Linked DNA regions of Homo sapiens. The protein of the gene in region 1 purifies or fractionates together with the protein of each later gene. This does not show direct contact. Each region holds a gene or a part of one and is shown on either strand. Other genes may lie near its edges.

Evidence for each region.
Region 2: the proteins of TEAD4 (region 1) and GNB1L purify together in Homo sapiens (affinity purification with mass spectrometry, with the first as the bait; one large-scale study listed by BioGRID). This does not show direct contact.

Annotation. Positions count from the first base shown.
Region 1 is NC_000012.12:2,993,897-2,997,396, reverse strand, and holds part of TEAD4 (transcriptional enhancer factor TEF-3), read right to left. Parts: intron 2,660-3,500; 5' UTR 2,631-2,659; coding exon 2,405-2,630; intron 1-2,404. UniProt on the Homo sapiens protein: Transcription factor which plays a key role in the Hippo signaling pathway, a pathway involved in organ size control and tumor suppression by restricting proliferation and promoting apoptosis.
Region 2 is NC_000022.11:19,844,875-19,848,374, reverse strand, and holds part of GNB1L (guanine nucleotide-binding protein subunit beta-like protein 1), read left to right. Parts: exon of another isoform or gene 1-2,229; intron 2,230-3,500. UniProt on the Homo sapiens protein: Acts as a critical regulator of DNA damage response (DDR) signaling via specifically regulating phosphatidylinositol 3-kinase-related protein kinase (PIKK) family proteins.

The DNA.
Region 1 (3,500 bases):
CCCCAGGTGCTCCACACACAGCTGTCTCCCCCATGACGCTTCCCCAGGCGCTAAAAGTAAGAAGCAGAACTTCACAAGTAGAGGTGGAAGGGACTTCACAGGAGTTCTGGCCAGTAAATATTTCAGGGGTTAGTTTCCCAGTGTCTTCCTTAAATGTATCCAGGTCACTCTTCTTCATCCCATTCTCCTGTCTGCTAGCTGCAATGTAACTCCTGGAGCTGAAGCAGCTGCTTGGGCCTTAAGGGAACATTCACAATGGAAGGCATGCTCATGAGCCACAAGACGGAAGCATCCTGGGTCCCTGAGAGCTTCATGGAGCAGAGCTGCCACACCTTCCCTGGACTACCTACCCTCCAGACATTTATAGGAGAGAGAAGGAAATTTCCCTTATGTAAGCCACTGTTATTTGGGATCTGTTAAAGACAAATTTTATCTTAACTGCCACAAACACATTCAAGTATTTTATTTAGAAATACAGATGCAAGGCCGGGCATGGTGGCTCACACCTGTAAAATCAGCCGAGCGTGGTGGCGCACGCCTGTAGACCCAACTACTCGGGAGGGTGAAGCAGAAGAATCACTTTAACCCACGGGGCGGAGGCTGCAGTGAGCCGAGATTGCTCCACTGCACTCCAGCCTGGGCGACAGAGCAAGACTCTGTCTCAAAAACAAAAGAAAAGAAAAGAAAAGCTGGGTGCGGTGGCTCACACCTGTAATCCCATCACTTTGGGAGGCCAAGGTGGGCGGATCACCTGAGGTCTGGAGTTCAAGACCAGCCTGACCAACATGGAAAAACCCTGTCTCTACTAAAAATACAAAATTAGCCAGGAGTGGTGGCACGTGCCTGTAATCCAAGCTTACTCGGCAGGCTGAGGTGGGAGAATCGCTTGAACCCGGGAGGCAGAGGTAGCGTTGAGCTGAGATTGCGCCCATTGCACTCTAGCCTGGGCAACAAGAGTGAAACTCCATCTCAAAAAAAAAAAAAGAGAGAGAGAGAAAAGAAAAAGGAAAAAATAAGCAACCATCAGAGCAAGAAGTGGTCAAAGCAGGGAGAGTCTAGAGGGCCGACCCAGAAGTAAGGGCGACCCTGGGGAAGCCGAGCCAAGCAACAATGGTGGGGGTGGCACCAGCGTTGGGTGTGGGGGAGAAATGAATGGAAACCCGTGGGGGTGGGCAGCTGGTCTGGGGCCATCCTGTTGGAAGCCAGGCAGGGGCCCCGTTGTCACTGACTTCAGCCATTTAGAGACCCACTCAGGGCTCTCACTCCTGCCCCAAGACCACTGTTTTGAGCTAGGATTCCTAGAGGACTTTCCAACAGGAACAGAAGCCTTATCTGGGCCTTCCAACAGCCATTCAGTTTTTATTCTTGCTTCATTTTTTTTTTTTTTTTGAAACAGGGCCTCACTCTGGCACCCAGGCAGGAGTGCAACAGTGCACTCATGGCTCAATGCAGCCTTGACCTCTTGGCCTCAAGAGATCTTTCTGCCTCAGCCTCCCCAGTAGCTGGGACTGCAGGCTGGCACCACCAAACCTGGGTAATTTTTTTTATTTTTACTCCAGATGGTGTCTCGCTTTGTTGCCCAGGCTGGTTTCAAACTGCTGGCCTCAAGTGATCCTCCCACCTTGGCCTCCCAAAGTGCTGGAATCACAGGCTTGAGTGAGCCACCATGCCCAGCCCCTGCTTCATTTTTCCAGATGCCCCCTCTTCCATCCAAAAGTCATCGTGGCCCCATGCCAACTGCTTGGTCCTTCCCATGCATCGCTGAACAGTTTCAGCTGTGTTCTGCAACCCCAGCCACTCACAAAGATCAAGCCGTTTCTGGTGACCCTCTGCTGGGTTGGGGGGGGCCTTTCCTAGGGGAGTGGTCTCCAGCACTCTGCCTCTCCTAGGAACTCTCCAGGCTGCCTTGCAGAGCAGGTATCTGTGAGCTCACATTACCCTCACCCCAGATGACAGGCTGGGACTAGACCCGTCTAACCCACACCAGGCACACAGAAGGCTCGGCATCTGTTTGTTGCATGAATGAGTGAGGGAAAGAGGGGATGAGTGAGCATCCTTCACAGCCAAGGTGGGCAGCCTGCTGGTCAGGCACCTGCTGGGGTACAGCTTGTGGGGTGCTCCCCACCTGCTCTGGGGGGATGTTCTACCCCACCCAGATTCGCCTTTTCCAAGATTCCCACTCCCATCTCTGCTCACCGCCAGGGGCCCCACCCTCCACACCCCCTCACAGGCTTCTCCTCAGATGCCCCCATCCCTTGGGAGCCCAGGAGGGAAGAAAGCAGTGTCCACCCGACAAAGCCCCAAGTGGTCATCCCCTTCTGTGGCCCGGCAGGAACCCCAAGGTTCTGGTGTCGGCCCCTTGCCTCAGCCTCAGGTACAGGGCTGAACCCGACGGGCTCCTTACCATACATCTTGCCCTCGTCCGACAGGATGATTTTGCGCCTGCCACAGGGCGGGTAGATGGCGAGGGCCTCCTGGAAACTCTGCTCAATATCCGGGCTCCACACGCCCTCTGCGTCATTGTCGATGGGCTTGTCCAGTGCCTGACTGCCCCCAGAGGCGGTGCTCCCCTCAGGGGAGGTGGGAGAGCTCCACTCGTTGGAGGTAATGGTGCCGGCCGTGCCCTCCAAGGCTCCGCTTGGAGGAGCGCTCGTTGGACCTGTGGGGACAGGAACCACAGCCCCGGTGAGCAGTGGAAGAACTGCGTGGGCCACGGGATGAAGGCACTCCGGGGAGTGCCAGAGCCCGAATCAGTTGCTCAGGAAGCAAAGCGTGAAGTGAAAGATCTGTGAGAATCAGGCCTGGGGTCTTGAACAGGTCCCATCCCCTCTGGAGAGCTCATCTTCCCATCTGTCGAATGAGCACAATGACCTAGGCACTCCCTGGTATCAAGGAACCCAGACAAGGGCTGAAAAGTAGGAGACAAGGATGCAGTGCCGGGGATGCACTGACATTAAATCGACCCTGGGCAAAAAGCATGCAAAATCCTGGGTACTGTTGGTGGGAATGCAAAATGGTACAGGCCGGGCGCTGTGGCTCACGCCTGTAATCCCAGCACTCTGGGAGGCTGAGGCAGGCAGATCACTTGAGGTCAGGAACTCGAGACCAGCCTGGCCAACATGGTGAAACCCCGTTTCTACTAAAAATACAAAAATTAGCCAGGTGTGGTGGCGGGCACCTGTAATCACAGCTACTCGGGAGGCTCAGACAAGGAGAATCGCTTGAATCCGAGAAGCAGAGGTTGCAGTGAGCCGAGATCCCGCCACTACACTCCAGCCTGGGTGACAGAGCAAGACCATATGACCCAATACCTGGGTATATACCCAAACAAACTGAAAGCAGGGTCTCAAAGATATATATGTACACTCATGCTCGCGGCAGCATTATTCACAAGAGTCAAAAGGTAGAAGCAAACCAAGTGTCCATCAATGGATGAATGCATGAACAAAATGTGGTGTATACCTACAGCGAAATAGGAGCTTTAAAAAGGAAGGCAACCG
Region 2 (3,500 bases), on another chromosome or scaffold:
TCTTCTGGCCCCCACACACTGGCAGACCCGAAGGCAGGGTGCTCAGGAGCTGCAGAGCCTGGCAGGGTTTGCTGGACATGCTCAGGGACGGGCCATGGTGCTGGCTCTGCTTTCTAATCATGGTGTCAGTCCTTCACTTCCCTTGGAAATACCCAGAGATTTTATTTCCTGAAGATAGGACATGATGGGTGCTGTGAGATGGTATTTAAAGTACCTGTCTGCAAGGAAAACTTTAAAATAGGAAGTACTAAGGATAAGGTCCTATGGGATATTGGAATATTTTATAAAGCCACAATAGTTAAAGCACTTAGATGTGGACAGATGAGCAGAGAATAGAGGACTTTGAAACGGGCCAAATAAATATGGAAATTTAGTACAGGCTAGAGGTGTTTCCAATTAACGAGTAAAATGGATTATTCAGTAAAAGCAGTTGGCCCTCTGGAAAATAGTAAAGCCATGTATGTGCCTCACTCTTTATGCCAGTACATATTCCAGATTAAAGATTTCAATGTTACAATTATGAAAGTACTAGAGGAAAATATGGGTGAATTTTTTTTTTTTTTTTTTTTTGCCTATGATTCCAGGATTTTAAAAGTTTTAGATGCCCAGAGTTGTGGAGGTATGGAGAAGTGGACCTTCTCATACTGTTGGTGGGAATACACAATAATATAATTTGACCACGTAACAATTCTAGGCACATGCATGCTGTGACTACTTGCTAGGTGCATGAAGGCTCTTGCCAGGGGTGGTCATGGTTCGGTACCACTACATGGGGGTTTAGAGCAGGGACTGGAGGTTGGCCTTGCCTCCTCCCCTCCCCGCATGAGCTGAGGGTCCTTACCTGACCTTTTTGAGCTGTGACCAGAGTTTTTCCTCATGGGGTGGTTAGAAGGGTTGAATGAGAATGATGCCCATGCAGTGCCTTGGCTGGGGTCTGGGCCCTCTAACACCCACCTCATGGGTGTCACTGTTTTTTGAACAGCAGAACTGGAAAAGCCCAAAGATCCAGCAATAAAGGAGCAAGGCAAATAAAGCTGTTACCCTGCAGGATCAGTCAGCATGAGCCAGATTGTGCTGCAGTAACAAAGATCTCCAACAGCGCAGCGGCTACAGTTGGCACTGCTTATTTCTTGCTTGCACCTGTGGGCCACCGTGGCTGGGGCCTGTCAGACCTGTGCTGACGACAGCCTACCTGGACATATTTCTCCATGCTCACTGAGGCAGGGGAAAGGCCACAGCAGGCCACAAGTAATGTGTGTCACCCCACTTCCATTTCTGTGGCCAAAGGAAGCCACAGAGCCACACCTGAGTTCCATAGGACGGCAGCAGCTGATCATCCTATGGGCTGGGGTGCTCAGTATGGAGAAGTACAAGCAGCCACCCAGCGTGGGGCTGGTTGGTGCTGCTGAGGATGGGAGGATGGGAGGGGCCTGCATCCATCCCAGGGCAACATACCTGTTTGTCTGCTGGGGCTGCCTGACAAAGGACCGCAGGCTAGGGGACTTAAACAACAGACATTTCCTCATGATTCTGGAGCTAGAAGCCTGAGATCAAGGTGTGGGCAGGGTTGGTTTCTCCTGAGGCCTCGCTCCTTGGCCTGCAGATAGCCATCTTCTTGCCGTGTCCCTGTCTGTGTCTGTGTCCTAATCTCTCATAAGCTCACTAGTCTATTGGATCAGGGCCCACCCTCATGACCTCATTTAACCCTGAATTACCTCTTTAAAGACCCTGTCTTCAAATGTAAGTACTAGGGGTTAGGACTTGAACATAAAAATATTGAAGGGACATAGTTCTGCCCACAGCGGTGCCCGCGATAGGCTTCTCTGGTTTTGTCTTTGCTGTTCCTGGCAGCGCTATATTGGGCAGGCTTCTGTGGTCTCCACATGCCTGTGTGCAGAGTCCCCCAGGCCCTGGGTTCTGGGGCCCATACTGAGGAGTGGGGATGGCCAAGCCTTGGCTGTTGAGTAGGCAGTGCCCAGTTGTGCTGTATGGGATGCTGTTTCTCACTTAAGAAATCTTTCCCTACCTGGGGGGTACAAAGGCATTATCCTGTATTCCCAGGTTGTAACTTTCTGCCTTTGACATTCAACCTTGAGTCCACCTGTAAGTGTAACTGCGGCAGAAGGGAGGGGTCTGCTGTCATCCTTGATAGCCTGTGATGAGCAGAGCCCCTCTGCCGACCGCGATGCACATGTAATATGAGCAAGAAATAAATTTTTGATGTGCGAAGCCACTGAGTTTGGGGCTTGTGTTTTCCACAGCATAACCTATTATGTCCTGACCAACAGGGGATCCCATTTCACCTTTTTCCATAGGGCCTACCTCAGCATCAGCTGCTGGCTGCAGCAACTCACAGTCTGGCTGCAGCCACCCGTGAGCCATGCCTGGCCTACCCGCCTGCTCTCTGGTCTGATCTGTCCCTTACTAGTTATTCTAGCTTTTAAGTCTTGCTTATGTCATAGGGAAACCATCCATGTCCCCATTTTTCAAGTTGTCTTTGCAAGTTTTAAAACACATTGGATCACAAATGCAGAGGCAGCGAGGATGGTGTCATGGCCCTTGCCCAGCCCCAGCAGTGTTCACACTCTCCTGGTGCAGGCCTCGGGGGTGCCTTGTCGCTGGACAGCCTGGCCAAGCCTGCTCTCCAGGACAGCAGGGCCCGTTGCTCCCTTAGTTTTTCTTTGGGCTACATCATCTCTATTACAGGGACACGGTGGGTAGGGGCTGGCCAAGGAAGAGCCCAGGCCTGTGGGGTGTTCTCATTGGCCGGCTCCTTTCCTCCTGGCCTCAGGAACCACCCCCAGCACAGGGCTGGGGCCTGTGGATGATGGGTGCTCATGCACTTGCCACATTCTTCTGTGTCCCCATTGGTGGGGCTGCCAGCTGGGTGCACAGGACATCTGACTCCCCTGCCCCCTGCTGTGCCTGCGCTGCCCACCTCACCTCTGTGTCTGAGCACTGCAGGGGACTGGGGAGTGTTTGTGGGTTGTGGAGCCAGGGCTCTTTATTCACAGGCTGTGCATAGGGGGGGCCCTCAGTGAGGGGTCCACCTGCAGCACCCACAGGGCAGAGCGAGTGGGAGGCTGGCCTCTGTCCTCATTCGCATGTCTGTGGATGTGGGCAAGCACATTGCTGGCATGCATATGTAAGCATGTGCACAGCTGACTGCATGCAGCTGGGTGGTCGGGAGTTGATGAGACATACACCTGGCCACACCACCACCTGTGTGTGATAGGGGACCTCCCCTTTCCACCCAAGGTTGCCTCCGCCACAGGAGGAGCCACACAGGCAAGTCCCTGTCAGAAAGTGTCAGCCCCAGCTTGCTTAGGGACCCCTCCTCCAGCTCCGACCAAGTTTCCAGGGCACATCCCCATCCCCGAGGCCAGGGGCACCAGCCCCAGGGGATTGGTCCCCATCCTGCACCCTCTGTGAGTGTTGTCTCTCCCTGATGGGATCGGCAGCTGGCCTACATGAACCAGGCCTCTGAGCAGAGGCTGAAC